Homo sapiens: one gene and its partners. The protein of the gene in region 3 interacts with the protein of the main gene of each other region in a biochemical or structural test. Each region holds a gene or a part of one and is shown on either strand. Other genes may lie near its edges. The genes, in order: ETAA1, MCM5, ATRIP and TOPBP1.

Region 1 (7,639 bases), on a different chromosome or scaffold from region 3:
GCCTGTCCAAGAAAAGAAAAAAAAGCTTTGGAGATGGTTCTATTACAGTAACAACCTTAACGTAACCTTACAATTATAGCACTCTATAGTTTACAAAGAATTTTTATCTAGTTTAATTCTCATAATGATCCAATGAAGACAGCAAGAGCAACACAATAATTCTAGTTCATGGCTGAATGAACTGAAGTGGTGGGAGTTTAAATAACTTGCACTGGGTCACACAGCATAGGAGGTTGAATGAGGACTAAATTTGAATTCAGTGCTCTCCACTTTTGTAAGTGTTTCTTGATAATCTTATAAGGAAATGAGTATTAATAGTTTCAATGGGGAAATGTTACAGACAGGAAGTACCAATCACAAAACAATCATAGAAGTATAAACTTTTTTCACTGCCTTATTCTATTATTTTAGCAACTTGAAAAATGATGTCGTATGTTGTTAAGCACAACATTACAGATAAACACAATGCCCTAGTCAAAAATTACTCTAAAAAATTAAAACAAGATATATACTTAAGAAAATATCTTGTATTTTATATTATATTCCTTTTTTCAAAATATGTATTTCAAAAGTAGAAAAGGCAAAACAGTAATCTTTGCTGCCTTATTTTTGGAAAAAAGAATTATAATAGACAATACTTTTCATTTAAAGAAACTACAAAAACTTAGTGGCACATTCTTCACTGTTTTAAAACAAACTGTAAAACTAGTGATATTTACCTGAGGAGCAATACGATTAACAATATGTGAAATCTCATCACTATCTGTGGTGTAAATCTGTTTTTTTCTTCCTTTACCTAAAGAAACAAAGACATTTCTATAAATTTTAAACAAAAAACCCTCCATTTTAAAAAACAGCTGTCACTTCTTAGAAAGTAATTTTATTTAGTGCAGCTTAGAGGATTATGTGTTTACATCACATACTTATACAGATAAAATCATATAACATTCTCAGAGGTTCCCGATGCTATTATCTGACTAGAATTCTAGTTAAATCTGAATCATTTATCAAATATTTACTCACATAAAAAATGTTAATAATTAATTACCTAACTGCTTTGTCAATGGAGAATTCTGATCCCAAAAGATATCATTCTGTCCATCTGGATCATTAGGAGAACTGAAGGAAGATGACAGTGAGTCCATTTTCAGCGCTCTCTTTGGTGTTTCATACCTTTCTATATAAAATATGAGTAAAATAACAATTGTTGCATTTTAAAGCATTACCTTACTTCGTAAGACCCCAAGGTCAAATAGCTGAGACTAACTTTTATAGTCCAAGATAATTTTTTTTCCCAGAGATAATTACCTGAACCGTAACAGAAATGCTTGTTTCACATAAAAATCCACGCGGCACTTCGCAAACTTCACATTGTAAATAGCAAACACTTCTAGATAATCCAGAAGCTTTATGAATGCATAATACAATACTGTATAACCTAAGTCATTCTATTTATTACCATTGAGTCTTGGAGGCTTTGGGGAACCATCTGTAATTTATAGGTACATTCAAAAATCCAAAGTAACCCAACAGAAACCTAAATATGTTTAGCCCCCTTTCACCAACTCTATCTAATCTACATTAATTGCCATTCTTCAAAAACCATTAGTGATCCAATGCTTGGGAATTTTTGTCTAGAATCACTTTCAAATTTTTATAAAGATTTTTGTTCATTCCCAAATTGCTTTATAGGAGTATTATTAAAGACATGTAAGGTGGCCGGGCGCGGTGGCTGTAATCCCAGCACTTTGGGAGGCCGAGGCGGGTGGATCACGAGGTCAGGAAATCGAGACCATCCTGGCTAACACGGTGAAACCCCTGTCTCTACCAAAAATACAAAAAATTAGCCGGGCGAGGTGGCACACGCCTGTAGTCCCAGCTACTTGGGAGGCTGAGGCAGGAGAATCGCTTGAACCCGGGAGGCGGAGGTTGCAGTGAGCCGAGATTGTGCTACTGCACTGCAGCCTGGGCGACAGGGCGAGATTCTTTCCCAAAAGAAAAAAGACACGTAAGGTATAAAAAAAAAAAAAAAAAAAAAAGCACTATTTCAAGAACATGCTCCAGAATAAAGGCTTTTGTATGAGTTTCAGTTCCAACTAAGATTTACTAGAAGTCTTTTAAAAAGTAACACCTAAAACTAATCGAGACGAAAGAGATCCTTAGTATCTTATTTGGAGGGATGTTACACACAGGAACTTCCGGTTTATTCACAATGAGGTGAGACATCTACCAGGCTTTGAGACAAACTTTAACTTTTCCTATGAACTCTTCTCTAAAGCAGGTCACAGGGAAAAAAAGGGTTTAAAGAGAAATAACTTCTCCGGGCAAAAACTGAGGTTAGCGGGCCTATCAGCTGTTTCTTCTCACTCCACCACTGCTGCTGACTGGAGGAGCAGCCTGGAAAGCAGCCGCCCTCCCGCAAACAGGTAAACCACATTACCTATTCCTGTGGCGGAGGCAAATGGATGGTCAAACCTAACGGGGTAGTGCTGAAGTTCGGGGACAAAAGCCCATCGGGGAGTGGTATAGGATTATTTTTGGACTCTCGAGGGGTGAATCCCAGAGACAGAATACACGCTCCAGACTCCACCCCCACCCCAGATTTCCCTGTTGCAAGCTGGGATGTGGGGATGCGGCGCCGAAGCCAAGGCAGGCCGCGCTGCCGACGTCTCACCCTCGGGGTTACTTTTACTGCACAGGGCGGCGGTCGGAGGCTGCTCTCGCTGCCGCACTGGCCCGGGAGGCCCCTCTCTAGCCCCGCAGGGCCACGAACCGCGGGCCGATCTCAGCCGCCTCCTCCCTGGCTCGACCACCGAGCCGCATTCCTCCGCCGCCACTGTTTTGTGCGGCGTTTTCTTCGGGCTAGGGCTGTCATCATGTTTCCTTCGCCGACTCATTGCCTATGGCCCGCCTCCACCAGCCGCTTCTTCTTTCACATTTTGCAAAGGGATGAGTAGGGCAACAGCACTACAAACCGCACCCCGCACCAACGGCAGCCGCCATTTTGGTCGGTGGGGCGCGCGCAAGAGGCGGCCGCTGATTGGCTGGGTCCGGGAGAGGGGCGGAACTGTTAAGGTGCCGAGGGCGCGCGCACTTCCGCAGCCGGGACAGGAGCCTGCTCTGGAGGAGTGTCTAGGCTCAAAATCCTCCAGACTGGTGGGGGTTGTTCGGGTAGTAGTCAGGTCCGCGTAAACTGAGAGTGGGAGCTTGTGAGTTGGAAAGATTGAATACACTAGCAACTTTTTATTGAATTTACAACGAAAATTGCACGTTAGTCAAATTCAGATTATTGAGAGTCTTCGAATTTCTCAAGAAGAGGAAATACAGTTAATTTTTCATAGATGCTATGTGCATAGAAAAATCCAAAAGAAAGTAGAAAAAATTACTAAATTAATTTAAGAGTTGCTGGATACAAAGTCAATATTCAAAGATCAATGTGTTTCAATAGATTAGCAACAGATATAAAATTGAAGTTTTAAAGAGATACTATTTATAATAGTGCATGAGATAGCAAGTAACTAGGAATAAGTTAAAGATTGTCCTTCCTACAAAGAGAACTATAAAACATTTTTGAGGCCGGGCGCCATGGCTCAAGCCTGTAATCTCAGCACTTTGGGAGGCCGAGGCAGGCGGATCACGAGGTCAGGAGTTCAAGACCAGCCTGACCAGCATGGTGAAACCCCGTCTCTACTAAAAATACAAAAAATTAGCCGGGCATGGTGGTGCGTGCCTGTAGTCCCGGCTACTGGGGAGGCCAAGGCAGGAGAATTGCTTGAACCTGGGAGGCGGAGGTTGCAATGAGCCGAGATTGCGCCACTGCACTTGCAGTGAGCAGAGATCGCGCATCTGCATTCCAGCCTGGGCGACAGAGGGGGACTTCGTGTAAAATAAGTAAATACATACATACATACATACATACAAAAATTAGCCAGGCGTGGTGGCGGGTGCCTGTAATCCCAGCTACTTGGGAGCTGAGGCAGAGAATTGCTTGAACCTGGGAGGTGGAGGTTGCAGTGAGCCGAGATTGCGCCACTGCACTCCAGCCTGGGCAACAGAGCAAGACTCCGTCTCAAAAAAAAAAAAAATTTTTTTTTTGAAAGAAAACGAAGACCTAAATAAATGGTTACACTATGTTCATGGGTTGTGAGACTCAATATTGTTACAATGTCAGCTATTTCCAAACTGACCTATAGATTCAACATAAATACATATGAAGGCCCAGTGTGTGACTGTGTGTGTGTAACATGGTAAGTTTTTTCTAAAATTTATATGAAAATGCAAGGGACCAAAAATATCAATAAACTCTTGAAGATCTCTCGAAGAATAATGAGGGTTGATATCTACCAGGTATCAAGACTTATATGGTAATTAAGACAGTGTTATGATGGTGTCAGGATAGACAAAGATGAAAGAAACAGGATAGCACAGAAACAGACTTCCATATAAATGAACACGATTTAAGACAAAGGTGACCCTTCTGAGCAATGGTAAAAGGACTTTTGAAATTAAATAGTGCTTGGTCTATTTGATGTTCATGTAGAAAAAGAAAGAAACATGACCTTTACCTCAAACTTTATCCCCAAATCAGGTGCATATATATTCATTATAAATTTAATTGTAGAAGATAAAATAACATTTTAGAAGGTATAAATTGTCTTCATGACAGAACGCATTTGAAATAAAACAAAGGTCACCAGGCATAATTATAAATGTGACTACACAAAATTGATAATTTGAGAACTTCTGTCCATTCAAAAACAACATTAAAGAGAAGGAAGGGCAAGGCACAAATTGGGAGAAAATATTTATAAGACATATTTAAGGGCCTATATATAGGTTATATGAAGAACTGATACAAATCACTAAGGAAATGATTGACTGTCAAAACCAAAAGTGGATGAGACCCTTGAGCAGGATCTTCACAAGAGAAAATATTATCAACAAACTTATGGAAAAATCAGATTCATTTTTAATCAGGAAAATGCAAATGAAAACCATATCAGAATGGCTAAAGTTAAAAAGACTGACAATATAGGTATTGAGGCAGTAAACCAATGGAAGCTGTCACGTACTGCTGGTGAGAGTATAATTTGGCACAACCACTTTGGAAACCAGTTTTTGATCTAGCAATCCCACTCTGAGGAATATTCTCTGTTTAAATGCATGGACTTGTTCATCAAGATACAGTTTATAAAAATGCTTTGGTGGGATGCAGTGGCTTATGCCTGTAATCCTAGCACTTTGAGAAGCCGAGGCAGGTGGACTGCTTGAGCCCAGGAGTTTGAGACCAGCCTGGGCAACATGGCGAAAACCCATCTCTACAAAAAATACAAAAAATTAGCTGGGCATTTTGGCGCATGGCTGTAGTCCCAGCTACTAGGAAGGAGAATCACTTGAGCCCAGAAGTTGACTTGCTGTGAGTCATGATTGTGCCACTGCATTCCAGCCTGGGCAACAGAAAAAAAAAAGAAAAAACAAAGAAGAAGAAAAATGCTTTTAGCAGTAAAATTCAATTCAAAATTACTTCATACTGTAAGTGGACCAAATGCTTTCCAACAGTAGAATGATAAATATATTGAACTATATTCACACAACAAAATAGCAATGAAAATGAAAACTACAACTCTGTGCGACAACATGGATAAATCTGACAAACATAAAGTTGAGCAAAAAAAAGCTAGACCTCCCAACCCTCCTCCATAATGTTAAATAAATCCCATATAAATTCCATCAGGCAAAGTTCTACTATATTGTATAGGGATGTAAGCTTTAGTGTTAAAATGATAAAGAAAAATCTAGGAATGATTACCATAAAGGTCAGGATAATAGTTACCTTCGGGAGGGGGAAGGGACAGTGATTAGAAGTGGACAGAGGGAGGAGAGAATTTCATGTATTTATTGGCTTTGTTTATTTTCATGTTCTAGTTGTTAATTACAAAAGTATTTGCTTTGTGGTAATCTACTGAGCTGTACATTTTGTTCATTTTCTACACACATGTTATATTTATCAATTAAAATGTTTAAAATGTTAATGTAAGGCAAAGATCTTAGTTCCTACTGAGGAGCTGATATATTTCTTCTATCTTGTAAACTATTCTGTTTTTACTCTTTAATTTTGCTGACAGAAATCCTAGAACTAAATTTGAGATTCAGGGCTAGCAGTTATATAAACCATATAAACCGTTGTGAATAGATAATTCCATTATTTTTCCTCAGTGTTTGACCTTCTACTAATACTTTTTCTTTCCATGATTGTTTTTTACCTACATGTATTTAAACCATTGTTTAGTTTTATTTATTTATAACCGGATAAGACTGGAATACAAGTGATATTACATCTTTTAAAATTCAAATTAATTACTTGAACCTTCACTTGTATAAATTAGCAGGAATATTACTATTTCTCTCAGAGATCTCTCCTACCTCTCAAATGACCAAAAATCCTAGAAGCATTAAAAAAAATGTAAAAAGAACTTAATTTACCAAATAAATATCCAACTCACATTTAGAAAGTAATTAAGGAAGTTTAAAGAATTTAGTGATGTTTATAAGAGAAATAACCATGTAGTAATCCTTTAAAGCATATTAATGCTGCAAATAAAATAACAGTGAATACTTTACCATAACTCCAAATTCTATAGTGCCCAAGTAACCATTGCTGAAATGAACAACTTGAGCCTAAAGTACAGACGTGTTGTCTTAACACACCTAGGATGGCTGTAACCTGTAATCATTATGGGGTAGGAAATTATAGTAAATTTTAACTTGAAAATTACTTACTTTACATAATCTGTTACATTTCTAAGTGTACTTCAAATTAAATTTACTTCCTGACTATAGCTCCTGAAATAAGTATAACACAATTAACTCCTTAATAAAATGTTTTTAATGTGAAACAAAAGTCTTACAGATGTTTGAATGCAATATGATTCATAGCTCAGCATTTCTAGGCATTTGAATAATTTATACATATAAGTAAGGTTTACTGCAACTAAAAACTGTAATAAACCAAAGTGAAACTCTTGCTTGTTTCACTTACAGGGATTATTTATAAACTTGACAATAATTATTAAGGCAAAAATTGTGACACTGAAGGTCTGAGTTACTAAGGAGCTTCTCTGCCAGTGATTGCCTCCTCACTTACATTACAACGATGGGTCAATGCTACTGATCAATGGCTAACTGTGAGCAGTCTTCCTTTCAAGAAAAAAAAATCCATAATTATGTGAATTATGTTTGTGTTTTATATACAGAGCTCCAGCTCCAAATCTGTGAGAGTGCATTTGGCAGAATCTGAACAAGCAACACAATGATTAGAGGGTTTTTGTTTTTTTGTTTGTTTTTAACAGTTTTGTTACAATGTTTCCACCCCAAAATGTACCTGGGTAAGTGCTGGGCCCATTTTTCCTTATTCCTGACATAGCTGCAATTGTATTAGCTAGAACCACCTATTATGCCTAGCTGCTCCATCAGGAGCCTCTGCTGCCTAGGTGACCATGTCTGGCCAGACGGGCCCAATCGGGTAAAAATGACTGGACTAGACATGGGCACCTGATTTTAGGAACCAGTCCATAGCCAGCTTCTCCACCTCTGACTGACACAAAAAGATGCATTGAGACAATCCTATTCTTTCTTGGAG
Region 2 (7,025 bases), on a different chromosome or scaffold from region 3:
ACCTCTGAGCCTAGGGGGATGACGAAGTGGCCTGCCTCTCATGTTGTGGAGTCAGGTGAGGCAGCAGACATAGAAGTGCTTTATACCATCAGGCATCACAGCTCCAGAAAAGACCATCACCGTCACTCCATGAGCCTCCAACTCCCCTCTTCCCATACCCACTTCGTAAGTTTTCAGGATTCATGAACTGCTTGGAAAATCATACATCCTGATTACGTAATCTGCATGAAGGAATTGTGCTAAACACCACATGCATTTTCAAGCAGCCCTCTGAGAGATTAAGGACTGTCCTTATCCCCATTTTACTGATGAGGAAACTGAAGCTTGACAAAGTCACATAACTTGCCCAGGGAGCAAGAGCCTGACCCCTACATACTCTGTTGCCACTAATGAAGTTAACAGAAGCTACAGATCCGCTCTCCTCAGAACATCTGCATGCAATTTCAGGATATGCAAGCCCAGGTTAGAACCCTAATCAAAGATCTCAAAACCTTCCACCCAGGTTACTATGAGGGGCCCAAGCTCAGTACCCTCTCCCCCTCAGTAGAATCTTTTTTGTTTTCCTTTTTGAGACAGGGTCTCGCTCTGTCACCCAGGCTAGAGTGGAGTGGTGTAATCACAGCTCACTGCAACCTCAACCTTCTGGGGTCAAGTGATTCTCCCACCTCAGCCTCCCAAGTAGCTGGGATTATAGGTGTCTGCCCCAACACCCAGCTAATAAATTTTTTTTTTTTAGATACAGGGTCTCAGTATGTTGCCCAGGCTGGTCTTGAACTCCTGGCCTCAAGCAATCCTCCTGTCTCAGCCGCTCCAAGTGCTGGGATTACAGGCATGAGCCACCGTGGCTGTTCAGCAGGATCTTAACAGAAAGCCTGGGGTACGCTGGGCGCAGTAGCTCACGCCTGTAATCCACGCACTCTGGGAGGCCAAGGCGGGCGGATCATGAGGTCAGGAGATCGAGACCATCCTGGCTAACAAGGTGAAACCTCATCTCTACTAAAAAATACAAAAAATTAGCTGGGCATGGTGGAGGGCGCCTGTAGTCCCAGCTACTCGGGAGGCTGAGGCCGGAGAATGGCATTAACCCAGGAGGTGGAGCTTGCAGTGAGCCGAGATCGCGCCACTGCACTCCAGCCTGGGCTACAGAGCCAGACTCCGTCTCAAAAAAAAAAAGAAAGCCTGGGGTAGGAGGTGGGGTGTCAGGCTGGGAAGAGGCTTTGCCAGCTATTGGTTATCTAGCTGTGCATCCTGGGCCTCTTATCCTAAGAAGAACACAGACTTTGGAAAGCAATGCACATAGGCTGAAAGCCCGGCTCTCCTCCACACAGGAAGTCATTTAATCTCTCCAAGTTACATTTCCTCATCTGCAAAATGGGGCTGACATGCCCCTGCAGATTATGGAAAGACGAGATGAGAGGAACTTATGGAAGCATTAGGCACAGAGCAGGTGCTCTGCAACTGGCCACCTTCTCCACCCTACTCACCCTGCTCCAGATGACCCACTCCCAACACTCGGGTTAGGGCCACAGCTGGGACATCCACCGTCGTAGATGCCCACCTCCCAGCCCGTCTGCCTCACCTGTCGCAGTAGAGCTGCATGTGTCTGGGCATCTCCCCGTGGGGGACTGCATCAGGCAGCTCCTGCAGCTTCAGGGTCTGGAAGTCCACGCATTTGCATTTGTCGGGCATGATGAAGTACGGGTCCAATGGGCATTTGGGGCGCCCAGCCTGATCTCTGTACAAGGTAAGGGAAAAGAGTCACCAAAGCTACCTGGAGAATCCAAAGGCAGGGCTCATTCATCCCAGGAGCCAGCAAGGAGACGTTGCCAGCGGCAATTTATGGGGGTCTCCAGAATAAGCTGGAGATAAGCCAGGCAGGCAACGCTGCCTGGAGGTAAGAAAGGAAGGCAACACTGACGGACCTAGCACTGGATTAAGAGTCAAGGGAACTGCTTGAGGCTGGGTCCTTCCATTAACTTGCTGAGAGGAGGCAGACAGGTCACACTCGGTCTTCTTGCAGGATCATGGTGTCCTCATGGGTGAAGAGCTAGTTCATCAATTCTCTTACTAAAGCCCCACTCAAATCCCAAGATCTTTTCCAGTGGGATTCTAGGCAGTTCTAGACCATTCTGAGGGTCTAAGCCTCTACGTATCCCTAGGTAATTATGTCATTATTCAATAGATATTATAGCAACATAAAGAAGTAAACATCATAGCAAAACCTACTATGTGTCTGACACTATTCCAGGTGCAGGGGGCACAGCACTGAACAAAAAGGTCCCTGCTCTTGTGGAGCCTAAGTTCCTATCAAGGGAGGCTGAAAAGACATACAAGCAAACAATCATATTAAAGAGTGACAGCTACATGCTGTGAAGAAAAGTAAAAAAGTAGGCAGGTGTGGGAGAGACGAGGTACGTGCACACCAAACTGAAGATGAAGGGTTGGGCAAGATGCCCCTGGTAAGGGGACATGTGAAGAGAAGCCTGAAGAAGTGAGGACACAGACTATGGTAGCTTGAGGAACAGCACTCCCAGTAGAGGAAACAGCAAGGTCAAAGGCAGTGAGACTGGGGGTAGTCAGTGTATTCCAGAAACAGGAAGGAGGCAGTGAGGCCGGGCCTGGAGAGAGGAGGGGCAGCGAGGCCTGGGGAAGCCAGGAGCAGATCGTGGTGGGCTGTGCAGGACTTGACTAAGAAGTAAATGACTGGACCACCTGAGTGTCAAGGGACACCTGGCTGCTGGGTGGAAAACAGACTGAGGGGGTGGAGGGTGGACGCGGGGGATCAGGGAGGAGGTAGCGTGCCTCTCCAAGTGAGAGATGTCAACAGCATGGAATGAGGCAGCTGTGCCACAGGTGGATGGGAAGCTGAGGAGGCACCAGCGAAGGAGCCAAGAAAGAGCAGCCAGTGAAGAGGGTGGGGTTCCTTCAGACTGGGGGCAGCAAACATTTTCTAGAAAGGGCCGGAGGATGTGCATTCCAGGTTCTGCCAGCCAAGAGGCCACATACCCTGCCTTTGTAGTGCGAAACCAGCTGTGGGCAATACTTAAATGAACGAACGTGTTCCTGGGCCATAGGGTCAGCAGGCTAGATCTGGCCTAGTGAGCAAACCATAGTTTGCTTCAGAAGATTCCAAGTAGACTCATTACCCTGGACTGCTTTTCCCTCCCAACCCTGGGTTCCCTACAACGCTGTCTGGGTATCCTGGTGAGACAGAAGTCACCAATGTAGAGGGACCCTGTTCATGGTGTCTCAGAGCCACAGGGCATCAGATCTGTGCCAATCCTAAGGGCACACCCCTGCCCAGCCCATCCCAGTGGATCTCTAGAAGCAGCTGCAGGCAGTGCTTGCTACTTGTTCTCATCCTTTCTGATCTTCACTCAGGTCACCTCCCACAGTCCCTCTGGGCCACAGACTCACGTGTTGCACTTCCTGGGCAGGGCATAGCCCTCGAGGCCAGGGCGCATGGCAATGTTGGTGAGGGTGTTGCGGCAGCTGCGGCACTGGATAGAGATGCGGGTGGCCTTGGCACGGACCGCAGAGGCCGCGATGATGATGCCAGGGATCTTCACCAGGTGTGACATCATGTCCGACTGTAATAGAGCCATCGGGAAGCTTGTTGGTTAAGGGGAGCCAGGACGCATCTGAGATATGCCAGTAAATATCCTGGGCAGGAGCCTGGAGGAGGTGGGCACAGAGCTGCAGGGAGGGCCACAGCTCTTCTGTTCCGCTCAAAAAATGCTTCCAGAGCATCCACCCAGTGCCAGGCTATCTGGACCCTGGGGTTCAGAGGAGCCTCAGGCACAGCTCCTGCTTTTAAAGACCTCGCAGCACAATTGGGGGGGGAGGTGGCAGGGCAAGAGATACACTAAGCACATTTCACTACAAAGTGGCAGGTGCCAGGAGAGAGACCTGACCCCAGCTCTGATGGCGACATCCTTGGACCTGTAGAGTACAACACAGAACAAACCTGGGAGGCAGGGGCCCACATTCTAGTTCAAGTTCTGTCAAAACCTGCTGTGTGGTCTTCTGTCTGGGTCACTTCTCTTTGAGCCTCAGTTTCCCCATCTTAATGACTATTCCCACACCGGACAATAAGGCAGTAATATTTTTTCTTTTTTCTTTTTTTTTTTTTGAGACAGAGTCTTGCTGTGTCGCCAAGGCTGGAGTGCAATGGCAGGATCTCGGCTTACTGCAACCTCCGCCTCCCGGGTTCAAGCGATTCTCCTGCCTCAGCCTCCCAAGTAGCTGGGATTACAGGTAACTGCCACCATGTCCAGCTAACTTTTTGTATTTTTAGTAGAGACGGGGTTTCACTATGTTGGCCAGGCTGGTCTCGAACTCTTGACCTCAGGCAATTCACTGGCCTCGGCCTCCCAAAATGCTGGGATTACAGGCATGAGCCACCGCGCCCGGCCGTAATGTTAATTTTTAAGTGTGATGTTATTGTAGCTATGCCTTTAAAAATGACTCTTCAAAGGCTGGGTGCAGTGGATCACGCCTGTAATACCGACACTTTGGAAGGCCGAGGCGGACGGATCACTTGAGATCGGGAGTTCGAGACCAGCCTGGCCAACATGGTGAATCCCCGTCTCTACTAAAAATACAAAAATTAGCCAGGTGTGATGGCATATGCCTGTAATCCCAGCTACTCGGGAGGCTGAGGCCGGAGAATTGCTTGAACCGGGGAAGCAGGGGTTACAGTGAGCTGAGATCATGCCACTGCACTCCATCCTGGGCGACAGAGTCAAACTCCGTCTCAAAAAAAAAGAGATTCATCTTTTAGAGATACATGGAGAAATAGTTCCAGATCAAATTATATGATGTATGGGACTTGTTTCAAAAGAACTCCAGGGCCACAGATGAAACAAGATTTGGCATCTATGGATCACCTGAGGTCAGGAGTTCGAGACCAGCCTGGCCAACATGGTGAAACCCCATCTCTACTAAAAATTAGCCGGGCGTGGTGGTGTGTGCCTGTAATTCCAACCACTTGGGGGGCTGAGGCAGGAGAATCACTTGAACCCATGAGGCGGAAGTTGCAGTGAGCTGAGATCGTGCCACTGCACTCCAGCCTGGGCAACAAGAGCAAAAACTCCATCTCAAAAAAAAAAAAAAAAAAAAATTGGCCTCTAGTTGCTAATTATTAAGCTGGGTGATGAGTACAAGAGGATTCGTTATACGATTCTCTTTATATTCTAATGTTTGAATTATCCATAATAAAAAGTAAAACATAAATTCTCAGCCGATCCACTCCTTCCTATGGCCAGCCCTTGCCCTTCACAAAGCTCCTGAGCCACTAGTGTACAGGACTGGGACAATCTCTCTCCACCTTGTCTCCGTTTCTCAATGCCCTCCTCCGGCTGAACGAGAGAACCAGACATGAGCAGAAGTTTTGCTGGGGCTCTCAAAGAAAGCAGGAAGAGGCTGTGGGAAGCAGAAGCGAGGCTGGGGAGGCGGAATTCAAGACTCCATGCCTGCATCATTACAATAAAGTGACCATCACCACCTCAACCTAGCACCTGGTCAGTCTCAGCATAGTGGATGGAGGGATGCAATGAGGGATCCAATACCACCCATAAGCGTTCTTGCCCGGTATGTGAAATCGAAACACAGTCAGGCCTTTGCATCTAACTTCCAGCTTCCAAAAATCACGGGGGGGAAGGGGTATGTTGTAACCACCCCAAGGAGGCCTTCAGATAAATCTAAAAGGCAGCACATTCTACAGGATAATGGCTCCTGCTTCTTTAGCAAATCAATAATGTATCTGTGAAAGAACTTACACCCAGAGTAAAGGAAGCTGTCCTGGATTAAAAGAGATTTAAACAACAATCCAGTACAATGCCTGGTCCTGGCTGAGACACACGAGCTGTAAGAGTCATGTGAGGTAATTTGGTCAATCTGAATCTAGACTGTATATTCAATGATACTAAGAGATCTTTGATGTTTCAGTTGAGGTGCTAATGAGACTATGTAAGAAAACTTTTTTTTTTCGGGATAAAGTGTCATGTCTGTAATTTATTTTTTATTTTTAGAGACAGGGTCTTGCTCTGTCACCCAGGCTAAAGTGCTGAGAGGCACAATCAGAGCTCACTGTAACCTCAAATTCCTAGGCCCCTTGATCCTCCCACTTCAGCCTTCCAAGTAGCCTGGACTATAGGCATATGCCAGCATACCTAGCTTTGTTTTTTTTGTTTTTTTTTTGTTTTGTTTTTTGGAGAGCCAGGGTCTCAAACTCCCGGTATCAAGCAATCTTCCTCCCTCGGCCTCCCAAAGTGCTAAGATTAGAGGCATGAGCCACTGTGCATGAATTTACTTTAAAATTCTTTAGCAAAAAAGAAAAAGGACAAAATAGGAAACAACACAAAATGTTAATTATTAAATCTGGGTGAAGCTTTATGGGATTCATTATACTACTCTCTGCTTTTGGGTGTGTAATTTTTCATAACAAAAAGCAAAAAACAACAAACGATCCTTTTGTCTCCAGGAGGAGACAGGTTCAGAAAGGTCAAGTGCCTCACTCAAGGCCACACAGCTAGCACTCAGGTCTGGCTGCATCCAAAGCCCTCTGCACCATGCAGCAGCCACTGCCCTCCGACCCACCTTCAGGCTACGAATGCTGGAAGGGCTGGCGTCCGACTTGAGCATGACCTGGATGTCCTGGAGCACCTCCTCCCCAGAAGGCCGGGGCCGGGTCACCTCATCAGCTACCTCCTTGGCAGCTTCCTCCAGCTGGAGAAAGGGAAGGGCACAGGCTATTAGTAACTGGGGCAGAGCAGCCCTGGGAAGCTCAGGGATGGGGTCCCACTCACCAGCTGCAGGTGCTCGGCTGGCTGCTTGTACAAGTAGTCGGCCAGGTCCTCATCAAAGCTGGCCAGATCCTCCATCTCCACCTCAATCCAGTACTCCCCCAGGTTGTAATGCCGCTTGAGTTCATCCCTGGAGTGGGCACATAGCAGGGTGGGGCAGGAAGGGTGCAAAGAAGAGGAAACCAACACTGGCTGAGGTGTGCCTGCACCCCTGAATCT
Region 3 (7,025 bases):
GACCAGCCTGGCTAACATGGTGAAACGCCATCTCTACTAAAATCCAAAAAAAAAAAAAAAAAAAAAGCCAGGCATGGTGGCACACACCTGTAGTCCCAGCTACACAGGAGGCTAAGGCAGGAGGATCACTTGAACCCAGGAGGTCAAGGTGGCAGTAAGCAGTGATCACACCACTGCACTCCAACCTGGGTAACAGAGCAAGACCCTATCTCAAAAAAGAAAAAAAAAAAAAAAGTGGGTATTTTCAGCATTTTCTGGCAAAAGTGGGAAAATATTGGGTCCTGAAATGTATATGGAACTATTTTTTACAGGTGATCATAAGGTCCACAGATTATTAGATGGCATGTCAAAAAATCCTTCAGGGAAAAACAGAGAAACTGTTCCAATTAAAGATAATTTCGAATTAGAGGTACTTCAGGCACAATACAAAGAACTTAAAGAAAAGGTAAGTGACTTAACTTGTGGTTTTTGTAGCTAATTCATTCACTTACGTGTTTAAAAGCATTGTACAGTAAAATATACAAAAGTTGTAAAACAAGTGTCTAGATTCATCCCTATGACATGGGAAAAGACTAGGGAAAGAAAACCAGAAAGTTTAGGCTGAAAGAAACTAAATTGTGAGATTCCTAATGCCAAAGGCAAGAAGAAAAACACTGTATACCAGATCCAAAAAGAGATACAAACTGTTAGGGTACTAAGATGAATTTATAGCATGTATCTTCATGTGAATAATACAACTTCATAATGGTTGCTATTTTCATTAGCAGCTTTGCAAGAAAGCAGACACTTCATATCACCATCTGTAGGTCCCTAAGAAAACCAGGAATATGTGGAATTTTAGTTGTGCAAGGTATGTGACCCAGATTTTTTTTTTTTTTTTTTTTGGAGATGGAGTCTGTCATCCAGGCTGGAGTACAGTGACACAATCTTGGCTCACTTCAACCTCTGCCTCCTGGTTTTAAGCGATTCACATGCCTTAGCTTCCAGAGTAGCTGGGACTACAGGTGTGCACCACGACGCCCAGCTAATTCTTGTATTTTTAGTAGAGACGGAGTTTCACCATGTTGGCCAGGCTGGTCTCAAACTCCTGGCCTCAGCCTCCCAAAGTGTTGGGATTACAGGCATGAGCTACCACACCCAGCGACCCAGATCGTTAATGCCTCTTAGAGCCTAAAGAATCCGGCCAGGCGCGGTGGCTCACACCTGTAATCCCAGCACTTTGGTAGGCCGAGGCCAGTGGATCACCTGAGGTCAGGAGTTCAAGACCAGCCTGGCCAACATGGTGAAAACCCGTCTCTACTAAAAATACAAAAATTAGCTAGGCATGGTGGCGGGCACCTGTAATCTCAGCTACTCGGGAGGCTGAGGCAGGAGAATTGCTGGAACCTGGGAGGTGAAGGTTGCAGTGAGCCGAGATCGTGCCATTGCACTCCAGCCTAGGCGACAATAGCAAGACTCCGTCTCAAAAAAAAAAAGGAATCTGGTCAGGCAAGGTGGCTCATGCCTGTAATCCCAGCACTTTGGGAGGCCAAGGTGAGAGAATCGCTTGAACCCAAGAGTTCAAGACCAGCCTGGGCAATACAATGAGACCCTGTCTCTACAGATAAAAGTGAAAATTGGCCAGGCTAGTGGCACATGCTTTGTAGTCCTAGCTACTCAAGAGGTTGAGGCGAGAGGATCACTTGAGCCCAGGAGTTCAAGGTTACATTGAGCTATGATTGTGCCACAGCATTCCAGCCTAAGCAACCCCATCCCCCTCCCTGGCAAAAAGAATCTGCATGCATGAGTGGCAAGTGTATGCTTAAGCTATCTTGATGAATATCAGCTGTCCCATGAACAGGCCTAGCAGACCATGGTGACATCTGGTTGCTGTGGATATATTTTGAGTACTCATTTGTCTGTTTTTCCTGTGCTTTCTCCATCTCCCCAACTACATGTTAAAACAAAGTACCTAAGTAGTTTTCTCTTACAAAGTTTTCACGAGATTAATTTGGGATTTACAGATGAAAGTAATGGAAGAAGAAGTTCTCATTAAGAATGGAGAAATTAAAATTTTGCGAGACTCACTACATCAGACGGAATCCGTTCTAGAGGAACAGAGAAGATCACATTTTCTTCTTGAGCAAGAGAAAACCCAAGCACTCAGTGACAAGGAAAAGGAATTCTCCAAAAAGGTGACCCAGAGCATTTGTTTTGCACCAGCTTTGCCTGCCCACTGAGTTCCTTTGACCAGGGTTGCCTGTAAATCTTCCAGGGAGATTTCAACACTTGTTTGTCTTAAATACTTTCTGCTATCATCTCATTGCCATCCACTCTTCTTCCAGGGTCTGGATATATTTTGGAAAGGGATTTAGATGAAACTCTATTTTGCTGTGGTAGTTGGTCTTGGCAGGAGTAAATAACTAGCTTAGCATTTCTAGAAACAGGTTTACATTAAGGCTCTTTTGCTAGATCAGAAACTCAACTGACCTGGCTTAGGCTAAAAGGAAACGTATTGGCTTCCATATCCAAGTCTGGGAAGAACCGGGGTATGCTGGGACCTTAAATGACTTAAATCTTGCCAGGACATTTTTATTCTCTATGCTATAAACAGGCTCTATACTTATGGTAGAGGGTGTGTTCTCCAGAAGCTCCTGGGCTCATATTTTATAAATACAGAGCAGAATTAAGACTTAGGGCCACATGCAGTGGCTCACACCTATAATCCAGCACTTTGGGAGGCTGAGGTGAGAGGATTACTTGAGCCAGGAGTTCGAGACCAGCCTGGGCAACTAGTGAGACCTCATCTCCACAAAAAAGAAAAAGAAAAAATGAACAAAATTATCCAGGCATGGTGGTGTGCACCTGTAGTCCCAGCTACTCAGGAGGCTGAGGTGGGAGAATTGCTTGAGCCCAGGAGGTTGAGGCTGCAGTAAGCCATGATCATGCCATTGTACTCCAGCCTGGGCAATAGAGCGAGACCCTGTTTCAAAAAAAGACTTAGGCTCCCTCATCTCAAGTTTTAAAATTCTGAGAAAGGCTCTGATTGGTTTAACTTGAGTCAGTTGTCTGTCCCTGGCCAATTGCTATAACCAAAAGCAACCAAAAGCAAAAAAATGACAGCTCCCATTCTAATAAAATAGTCAGAGGTAGGGAAATTATTGAATTTTTTTTTTTTTTTTTTTTTTTTTGAGACAGGGTCCAGGGTTTCACTCTCTTGCCCAGGCTGGAGTGCAGTGGTGCAATCACAGCTCACTGCAGCCTTGACCTCCCAGGCTCAAGCAATCCTCCCATCTCAGCCTCCCAGGTAGCTGGAACTATAGGCACACACCACCAGGCAAAGCTAATTTTTAAATTTTGGTACAGACAGGGTTTTGCTGTATTCTCCAAGCCGTTCTCAAGCTCCTGGGCTCATGCAGTCCTCCCACCTTGGCCTTCCAAAGTGCTGAGATTACAGGCGTGAGCCACAATGCCCAGCCTGTTTCTCAGGGAAAGGAAAATGCTATTCTGGAAGGAAAAACAGTAGGTATCCAGTACCTACTACAACTTTCCCTCAGCACCTCCTCATGCTTCAATCTCAAGGACATGGGATCTTATTCTCATTGTTTCATTCAGCAAACTTAGCAAACTTTAAGCACTTACCTGTGCCCATCATTAACCGCAATAGTTAACTTTCTGTATAAGTGATGAAGAGCAAGGAATTTGCGGTCAGACAAACCTGAATTTGAATCCAGGCTTCATCACACATAAGCAGTGACCTCAAGGTAATAACTTAAGCTCCCTGGCTCATTTCCCTTATCTGTTCCAAGACATAACCAGAAAGGTTGTTGGGAGACTCACACATTCTTGCACTTACTGTGTCTGGTGCTGGGCCTGGCGCAGAGTGTGCTTGGGGAATGATGGCAGTTACTGTTGGCTGTAGCAACTGCAGGCCAGAGCAGCAGGTCTCTCTATACTGCACAGTGTCTTGGTAAACTATTCCAACTACTCTGCCCAAACTTTGAGGAAGACCTGGAATTGTGCACCAGTGCGTTCGTTAATAAAGGTCAATATGTTACTGCTGACATAGGGCACCTTACCAAGCTCTATGCTGGGTATTTTACACTCATCATTCTACTTAATCCTCCCAACTATCATGAAGACAGGTGTTTTATGTTACAAATAAGTTAGGATTCAAAGACATTAAATAAATGGTGGGCTGGTATTTAATTCTTTTTTTTATTTTTTAAATTTTTTGTAGAGGCAAGATCTTGCTATTTTGCCCAGGCTGGTCTCGAACTCCTGGGCTCAAATGATCCTCCCGCCTCAACCTCCCAAAGTGCTTAGGATTACAGGCCTGAACCACCACACCCGGCCAGGGCTGGTATTTAAACCCTCACAAACTACCCTTACAATAGAGTCCAGTATCTTTTTAGAGTACCATATTGTCTTTCAGAAAGAAAGCTAATGTTTAATATTTTAGGACATTTATGTCACAGCAGACTTTCATATGTATTTTTCATTGTTTGTCTTTTACTGGCTTGTGATTTTGAAGCCCAGAGATATTTTTGTGTATATGATGGGACCACTACAAGCATGTTTCTTTTGCCTTCCAGCTCCAATCATTGCAGTCTGAACTCCAGTTTAAAGATGCAGAGATGAATGAATTAAGGACAAAGCTCCAGACCAGTGAACGAGCAAATAAACTGGCTGCTCCCTCTGTTTCCCATGTCAGGTAATGATGGTGCTGGAGGGATAGTTCAGTTTTGCATTATTTAGTAAAAAATCTGCATAACAGTGTCAGGCTGGTCCTAAATGAAGGCCATTTAGACCCCTCCACCTGGGCAGAGATCCTCTTTTCCTGAAGGATTCAGAGGTGGTTTAGATGAAGCTTGCATGGTTTGAGACATCACAGCATAAAGGCCTATACTCTAGAAATGCTGCCTCTGTATGGCACTTTATAAACATAATTCTTCAGGACTAGAAAGACCTGGAAAAATGATCTCCAAATTTTGGGGGTGGGCTAGTCTCTACTTTTATGTAATTTGTTTAACTGATTTTGTTGCAAGCATGGGTGTATTTTAGTTCCAGCTACTTGGAATATTTTTTTCTCATTTGCTTTCTGGGGACCCTTGTCCAACAGCCCCATCCTTTGTGGTCAGATGTGCTCAACTTGTTTTTTTTTTCTTTTTTTTTTGAGACAGAGTCTCGCTCTGTCACCCAGGCTGGAGTACAGTGGTACAATCTCGGCTCACTGCAACCTCCGCCTCCTGGGTTCAAGCAATTCTCCTCCTTCAGCCTCCTGAGTAGCTGGGACTACAGGCACACACCACCACGCCCAGCTAATTTTTGTATTTTTAGTAGAGACGGAGTTTCACCATGTTGGCCAGGCTCGTCTCAAACTCCTGGACTCAAATGATTTGCCAGCCTGGGCCTCCCAAACTACTGGGATTACAAGCATGAGCCACTGTGCCTGGCGCAGCCTGGAAATTTGAACAGTGTCAGTCAGGGCATCTTCTGGTTTTGAACTTTCTACCGCCTTTGTTCATAATGGGCAGTGTGTGAAACTGAACTCTCCATGCCTTGCATTGTCCACATAAGACAAGAGAACTGAGGGGATCCTCTTCACACATCAGTAACAGAAAGACCTCAGCATTATATGATCAGATCAGAGAGTTAATACTGCTTCTCTACCATAAAGACATTGGCACTAAGTTGCTCAGTTTTCAACATACCTAGTAGGTTTATCAAAATTATGATATTTATTTTGATAGCCCTTTTTCTATTTAAAGTCTTTGCATTCTATTGGAAGTCTTTTTTTTTTGAGACAGAGTCTCACTCTGTTGTCCAGGCTGGAGTGTAGTCACATGATCTCAGCTCACTGCAACCTCCACCTCCCGGGTTCAAGTGATTCTCCTGTCTCAGCCTCCCAAGTAGCTGGGATTACAGGCACATACCACCACACCAGGCTAGTTTTTTTGTATTTTTTTTTTAAGTAGAGATGGGATTTCACCATGTTGGCCAAGCTGCTCTCGAACTCCTGACTTCAGGTGATCCACCCACCTCAGCCTCCCAAATTGTTGGGATTACAAGGGTGAGCCACTGTGCCCAGCCTGGAAGTCTTGTGACTATTAAAAAATCGTTTGTTCCACATTGGCTGGGTGCAGTGGCTCACACCTGTAATCCCAACACTTTGGGAGGATGAGGCGGGCAGATCACTTGAGGTCAGTAGTTCAAGACCAACCTGGCCAACATGATGAAACCCTGTCTCTACTGAAAATATAAAAATTAGCTGGGCATGGTGGCATGCGCCTGTAATCCCAGCTATTTGGGAGGCTGAGGCAGGAGAATCACTCAAACCTGGAGGCAGAGGTTGCAGTGAGCCAGGATCACACCACTGCACTCCAGCCTGGGCAACAGAACAAGACTCCATTCCAGAAAAAAAAATAGTTTGTTCCACATTGAAAAGATGTTTTGCACCAGGCATGGTAGCTACAGAGGCAATCCCAGCTACACAGGAGGCTAAGGCAGGAAGATTGCTTAAGGCTAGCAGTTCGAGACCAGCCTGGGCAACATAGCAAAACCCCATTGCTACTTAAAAAAAAAATAAAATTACTGGCCCCAGTGGCTCACGCCTGTAATCCCAGCATTTTGGGAAGCTGAGGTGGGCAGATCATTTGAGCCCACGAGTTCAGGACTAGCCTAGGCAACATGGTGAAACTCTATCTCTAGAAATAACTCTATCTCTAGAAAGAATAAAAAGTTAGCCAGATGTGGTGGTTGCACATCTGTAGTCCCTGTGCTACTCAGAAGGATGAGGTGGGAAGATCACTAAGCCCAAGAGGTGGAGGCTGCAGTGAGCCGTAATTGTGCCACTGGGCTCCAGCATGGGCAACAGAGTGAGACCCTGTCTCACCAAAAAAAAAAAAAAAAAATTAGCTGGCCATGTTGATGTGTGCCTGTAATCCCAGCTACTCAGGAGGCTGGGATTACAGATGGGTGGATTGCTTGAGCCCAGGAGGTCAAGGCTGCAGTGAGCTATGATCATGCTACTGTACTCCAGCCTG
Region 4 (7,025 bases), about 85 Mb from region 3:
GTGTATCCAGGTGTAACGAGGGCTCCTTCTGAAGTGGTTGTCCTACTGCTGGGGAGGCTGCGACCTGTCTGGCATGTTGTGAGACCACAGCACGGAAAGCTTTACTCTGAAAGCGGTTCATATCTAAAGGTGTAACGACGGTTTTTCTGTGAGTTTGCAGGCGTGTGCCAGGATGCTCTGCAGTATCTGAATTTAGATTGATTCCATTTGTTATTTCTGTTTCCAAACTTCGTTCTAGAGATTTAAAATGAAAAGAAACAAATATGAGCCACTAATGCCCACTTTTTCCCGGTACACAAGAAGTAATATTTTATACTGTTTTCTTTCCTTTCTTTCTTGCATAACTCCTGGGCTCAAGAGATCCATCTACCTCGGCATCCTAATCTGTTAGTTTTCATGTCAATTCTCAGGTACACTTTAAATCACAAAATTATATACCTACTTTCCAAGAAACAAACCAGATTATGCATTAAATATATGTTGAGTTAGACAAGCACATTAACTGAAAAAATAATAATAGATTTCCTGTTTCATCTTGCTATGTCTCAATAAGCCTATTTGCCAAAAATTGTTATCAGTGAATGTCTTTCTAGTCAATGACAGAGTAAAAAGAAAAATCTCAATTACAGGTACTCAGAGTTAACTACAGTCTAGTTTTGGAAAGTCCTTAATCAAATTTTAATATGACCTGAACATCACTTAGCCTCAGTCATAAAATTACCAGTCTGTCTGGCAAAATAAGTAATGACTCTGAGAGGTATTCCCAAGCTGCTGATATGTCCCTGAAGTTTGCCCATGGATGCTATTATCTTACAAGAGAGGGTACTGTATTCTTCCACCTATGCCTTCCACCTTTTTTCAACATTTAACAAAAAACCTTATTAGATAGCTACTCCATGCCAGGCCTAGTGTTAGACATGGGAAATACAGAATTCACAAGACATGCATGTTCACTGCCTTTCTGGAACTTTAAATTTAGCAGGAAGACACAAAATAAACAACCATTATAACACTGAGGTAAGAGATAAAAGGGATGATACAGAGTGTCATGGTGAAACAAAAAACATTATACCAAGACAAAGGCCATCCTTGGTGAGTCAAGAATGCTTCCCAAGACAGTGTGGCGATTCCTCAAAGATCTAGAACTAGAAATACCATTTGACCCAGCGATCCCATTACTGGGTATATACCCAAAGGATTACAAATCATGCTACTATAAAGACACATGTACACATATGTTTATTGCAGCACTATTCACAATAGCAAAGACTTGGAACCAACCCAAATGTCTATCAATGATAGACTGGATTAAGAAAATGTGGCACATATACACCATGGAATACTATGCAGCCAGAAAAAAGGATGAATTCATGTCCTTTGTCGGGACATGGATGAAGCTGGAAACCATCATTCTGAGGAAACTATCACAAGGACAGAAAACCAAACACCGCATGTTCTCACTCATAGATGGGAATTGAACAGACACAGGGCAGGGAACATCACACACCGGGGCCTGTCGTAGGATGGGGGGATGGGGGAGGGATAGTATTAGGAGAAATACCTAATGTAAATGACGAATTAATGGGTGCAGCAAACCAACATGACACATGTATACATATGTAACAAACCCGCATATTGTGCACATGTACCCCAGAACTTAAAGTGTAATAATAATTAAAAAGAAAAAATGAAAGGCTTCCCAGGGAAAGTGGTATCTTAGCTGAGAACTGAAAGATAAGCAGGAAGAGCAGGCAACTGTGAGGTGGTCTACAGGAAACATGCAGAAGCCCAAAGATAAGAGGAGAGATAGCATGTTAATTATATAGTGTGTTACTATGAGCCATAGAAAGAATCAACAGTAAATAGGAGCCAAGCTTACATCTGTAGACTTCGAACACTGAGACCCTCACTGCACCCAATGTGAAAAGCAAAAATCAATGACCCTTCCTAAACACAAGCATTGGCACATTTATATCCCAGAAACCATCTAGTTGTAAATATATATAAAAGAACAGAATAAAAGTATTAACCTTCTTTAGTTGAATTTTCAATCAGAAAATGGCTTTCGTCTGCTCTCTTTCCCGTTCTAGCAGTCTCCAACAGCCAAGCTATAGTAACGGCAGGTAAATTCCACTTCTTTGCAGCTTCATATTTAGAGCCACCACGTTCTTTCAGTATAAGATGAGTACTGGCAAACATGCCTTTCTTTGCATTGGATTTGCGAACAAAGTATTCTTGAACACTGAAATTTATGTTTAAAGAAGTGGAAATGGTCACATATACAATTAACCCGCAAAACTAACAAAATTTCCAACACAACAGTGTGGTTAGAGATCATGTAAGTATAAAAAAAAATACTGATTAAAAGTTGGTTTACTCTATCTGAAATTAAGCTAATCCCCTTACAAATGCTTACTCTAGGGTAAAAATGTATTGCTGTAACAAACTTTTTATAAAAACATAATTAGACATGCAAAGAACAGACAGCAAAAATCCTTTTGAGACAGGGTCTTGCTATGTTGTCCAGACTGGAGTGCAGTGGCACAATCACAGCTCACTGCAACCTCCGCCTCCCAGGCTCAAGCCATCCTCCCACCTCAGCCTCCCCAGTACCTAAGACTACAGGTGTACACCACCACACCTGGCTAATTTTTGTATTTTTTGTAGAGATGGGGTTTCACAATGTTGCCTAGCCTGGTCTCGAACTCCTGAGCTCAAGTGATCCTCCTGCCTCAGCCTCCTAAAGTTGGGATTACAGGCGTGAACCACCTCACACAGCCAAAATTACCTCCTTAATTAGTTATCACCCCCACACCTTGTCCTTTCCTCCCAAAAGAAGGCACAGAAAAAATGACAGGAGCAAAGTGTATAAATAACATTATTATTATTTTTTAACCTACTACAACTTTCCAAAGCATTTCTACATATTATCTCATTTGATCCTCTCAATATTTAAGTATAGACATGGGAAAAAATACAGAGAAATTAAGTGCCTCAAGATCATAGGATATTAAACACAGAGAATACGGGGCAGAAAAAGAAGTCTACGACTTGAGATTGAACAGAATTCCGTGATTTCTTTTATGACTTCTGGGTTTTATGTTCTAGTTCCCAACTTTTCAGATTTTTAAATTTCCCATGTTTCCTAGCACTTTTTTTTTCTATGTTTTGTGTTTATCTTAGTACTTTTATAATTTCATTTTTTACATTTAACCCACCAATCCATTCAGTACTTATTTAGATATGAGATACTGCTCCAACTTTAATGAATCCTATTTATTGAATAAGCCATGTCTTCCTTATATATATTTGAAATGTCACTTGTATCGTAAATTCCTTTTTACATTTGGGTCTCCTGCTACATTTGCTGTCCATTAATTAAACTTTCTGCTACACGTAACCACACTGTTATTTAGTGAAGTTTCACAAAATATATATTTGTTTGTTTGTTTTCTGAGACAGGGTCTTGCTCTGTCCTCCAGGCTAGAGTACAGTGGCGCCACTGTGACTCACTGCAGCCTTGACCTCCCAGGCTCAAACAATCCTCCCACCTCAGCCTCCCAAATAACTGAGACTACAGATTTATGCTACATTGCCTGGCTCATTTTTAAAATTTTTTGTAAAGACAGGGTCTCAGTATATTGTCCAGGCTGGTGTTGAACTTGGCCTCCTGCCACGGCCTCTCAAAGTGCTAGGATTACAGGCATGAACCACCAGACCTGGCCACAAAATATATTTTAATAACTGTTAGGGCTAGTCCCAATTATTCTATTTCAGAATTTGCATGACTTTCCTGCTGAGTACAGCTTTAGCTGTATCCAGTGGAGTCTGTCATCATGTATGTTATTATCTTCCACAATTTCAGTTTTAAAAGAATTTTATTATTTCATATAATTCAAACAGAAAACAGCAAAAAAAGAAATATACAGCTATACGAATTATTATAAGGTGAAACCCTTAAGTCCACCACCCAGGTCAGAAGACAGAATCTTGCTAACTACCCCAGAACCTCTCCAACATGCCATATAAACCCCCTTCCCTCCCTTCTTAATAGTAGCCACTATTTGGGCTTTTTTTTGGAGACAGGATCTCATTTTGTTGCCCTGGCTGGAGTATAGTTGTGTGATCATAGCTCACTGCAGCCCTGGTCTCCTGGGCTCAAGTAATCCTCCTGCCTTAGCCTCCCGAGTAGCTGGGACCATAGGCACATGCCACCATGCCTGGCTCATTTTTTTTTATTATTTTTTAAATAGAGACGAGGTCTCACTATGTTGTACAGGCTGGTCTTGAACTCCTGAGCTCAAGCAATCTTTTAGCCTCCCGAGTGCTGGGATTACAGGTGTGAGCCACTGTGCTTGGCCTATTTGGATACTTATAGTAATCACTTCTTTACTTTTCTATAATCAAATAATGGCAACTTTAAAGACTACATTTAGGCTTTTGCTTTTTCAAGTCTTTTAGCTTATAGGTTCCTACCTTCTTTTCCATGCCCTTAATATATATTCATTGAAGACACTGGATCATTTATGCCAGAGTTGTACTAAAGTCTGGGTCTTGCTGATTATATCACTGTAGTATAGTTTAACGTGTTATTCTGCTGTTTGCATTTCCTATAAATTGGGAATTGGATCTAGAAGCATCATCAGATTGAGGTTTGATTATTTTGGCAAGACTACTTCAAAGTGGTGGTGTATTCTTTGTAAGAAGGCACATCATGTCTTGTCCCTTTATTGTGTGATCGACTATTGATGTTCAATGCCTAGATTCTTTCATTCATTAGGGGTTACAGTCTTATCATTCCTTATTTATTTATTTGTTTGTTGAAACATCTTTATAAAGGGAAACTTTGTCGTATCCACTATCATGTTACCCTGATGCAAACTGCACAGGAAATGCAAGGTAATTCCTTGATCCTTTCCTTTTGTCAGCTTTCAAAGTAATGGACTGGTTCTCTAGCATCTTTCAAAGATGACCAATTACCTTACTTTATTTGGTGTCATTATGAAGTCACAACTTAAACACTATTTCATGTGTTTGGACCCACTGCAGTTATTACCTCTAATGATACCTAAGTTTTCATCTTTGGACAACAGAGGCACTTTTTTTTTTTAAGGCTAGTCAAGTGAAGCAGTGGGAGTGGAGAAGGAACCACATAACACTCATAAATATAATAAAGACACCCAACCAAATTCTAATTTGAATGCTCTCCAAGAAGTCAAAATAAATAAAAAGATACACCAATACAACAGGTGCATTAAAAATATTACATACCTTGCTCCAAGGAGGTTTGCTAGGAATGTTAAAGACTCTTTTTCTGCTCCAGCACACTGGCTAAATGAAATAACACAATCCTCTAAAGGAGTCATTCCTGTCATTACTGGAACTGGTGTGAAGAGAGGATTCGACTTTGGATCAAACAAAGTCTGATAGTCTATGCAAGTAACCTTTTAAAAACAAAAGAAATAGTAAAGCCAACCTGAAATAAGCAACCAGTGGTTAACACTGGTTCAGGTACAGAAGCAATAATTTAGTTTTGATAAGAAGAAATTTTACTTTAATACAAACTTGTGTATGCTCATTCTCAATACATTTCATATCATAATGTTAGAGTATATATATACATACACACATATACATACATCGACTAATTACATTAGGCTATTAAAATCGGTAAGATCTATTATTAGAGTTACTGAATGTTGCTTTAAATTTCATTCCTTCTAATGTATTAGTTTATACTATTTTTCTCATAATTCTTGGAATGTTAAAAAAAAAAAAATCAACAGTGAAATTACCAGTGATGCTTTGGTTATGAGAAAACAAGACAAATAGTATGAGATGACCCTAGAGTGACCTCCTAAGAAGGAATGTTGCTGCTGTGGCCCTGGGAAACAGTAATCTCTACTGTATCGGGATTAGGCCAAGAAGCTTGCACATTTAATTTTGAATTTCCCTTGCTAAAAGCAAAATCAAGAGTGTTCAAGTCCAAGCATTGATTTACTGTAACTGAACTGTCTAAGAAATAAACATTAACCTTCTTGGCATTCAGATATCCTTCGATACTTTATTTCAACCACTAGTGTTGTCTTACCAGCCATGTATTTGTAACAACTTCTCCCACAGTGGCTTCCACTTCACACCCCAGCAGAGGAACCACAGCATAATCCGCAACAGTTCTGCTCAGAAGGGACATGATTTTCCCAGCATTTTCTTTTATGATGTTTGCGATGTTAGATTCATTTTCATTACTAAAACCCAAAACAAGGAAACTCTTTTGGCTAAATAAGCCTTCTTCAGTAATTGTAGAAACATCAGGGACACAATGACTGACAGAAGACTGGTTTTCTTCTTGCAAAGAAATGTGAGTAGAATCATTCAAGGGCTCAGCATGAGTAGAATCATTAAAGGGCCTGGCTTCAGACGTCTTAGCCTCAACTGAAAGAGAAAAGTAAATGTTTTCTAACCAACAATTTACCTTATACAGTTTACTTCCTAGCAAGGATATTAACGTAACATGGAATCTGATAATTTTGACCATACTTACAAAACTAAAGCTTACGTGTATAATAAAGGGATATGGATTCACCCCGTCTTCGGGGTTACCAAGAGTCCTTATCAGTATTACCATCATCCATTGGGAAGGACAAGAGCAATCATGTTAGTTCTAGGTATTCCTAGTATAATGGAAACTTGAATTAGTTTAAAATTATATAGCTCCAACAGGACTTAGTTCCAAAACTGGTTTAGATGATTCACCATAAAATTAAGAAACTATCATTAAGAAAAAAATTAACAAGTCTAAATGGTATAACTGTCAAGTCCTTAACATGGAACATGTTAACATGGAAATAACTATAAGGAAGTGGCTGGCAAATCCTAAAATATTTATTGTCTACTCCTTTAGAGAAAAAGTTTGCCCTGCTATGTGATTCCAACAAGGCTGGAAGCTATCCAAGAATCACTCTTTCATTTATATAAGCACTGTGACTAAGTGCTTTACAAATGCATGTAATGCTCACATAATG

The links.
Region 1: the proteins of ATRIP (region 3) and ETAA1 form a complex in vitro, tested with the Homo sapiens proteins (one study listed by BioGRID).
Region 2: the proteins of ATRIP (region 3) and MCM5 form a complex in vitro, tested with the Homo sapiens proteins (one study listed by BioGRID).
Region 4: the proteins of ATRIP (region 3) and TOPBP1 form a complex in vitro, tested with the Homo sapiens proteins (2 studies listed by BioGRID).

Annotation. Positions count from the first base shown.
Region 1 is NC_000002.12:67,392,707-67,400,345, reverse strand, and holds the start of ETAA1 (ewing's tumor-associated antigen 1), read right to left. Parts: upstream 3,014-7,639; 5' UTR 2,898-3,013; coding exon 2,675-2,897; intron 2,016-2,674; exon of another isoform or gene 1,309-2,015; intron 1,178-1,308; coding exon 1,049-1,177; intron 797-1,048; coding exon 720-796; intron 1-719. UniProt on the Homo sapiens protein: Replication stress response protein that accumulates at DNA damage sites and promotes replication fork progression and integrity.
Region 2 is NC_000022.11:35,403,118-35,410,142, reverse strand, and holds part of MCM5 (DNA replication licensing factor MCM5), read right to left. Parts: intron 6,937-7,025; coding exon 6,810-6,936; intron 6,730-6,809; coding exon 6,601-6,729; intron 3,591-6,600; coding exon 3,418-3,590; intron 1,736-3,417; coding exon 1,580-1,735; intron 1-1,579. UniProt on the Homo sapiens protein: Acts as a component of the MCM2-7 complex (MCM complex) which is the replicative helicase essential for 'once per cell cycle' DNA replication initiation and elongation in eukaryotic cells.
Region 3 is NC_000003.12:48,449,726-48,456,750, forward strand, and holds part of ATRIP (ATR-interacting protein), read left to right. Parts: intron 1-311; coding exon 312-445; intron 446-767; exon of another isoform or gene 768-850; intron 851-2,003; coding exon 2,004-2,174; intron 2,175-4,574; coding exon 4,575-4,693; intron 4,694-7,025. UniProt on the Homo sapiens protein: Required for checkpoint signaling after DNA damage. Required for ATR expression, possibly by stabilizing the protein.
Region 4 is NC_000003.12:133,637,929-133,644,953, forward strand, and holds part of TOPBP1 (DNA topoisomerase 2-binding protein 1), read right to left. Parts: intron 6,436-7,025; coding exon 6,092-6,435; intron 5,445-6,091; coding exon 5,272-5,444; intron 2,243-5,271; coding exon 2,031-2,242; intron 235-2,030; coding exon 1-234. UniProt on the Homo sapiens protein: Scaffold protein that acts as a key protein-protein adapter in DNA replication and DNA repair. Composed of multiple BRCT domains, which specifically recognize and bind phosphorylated proteins, bringing proteins together into functional combinations.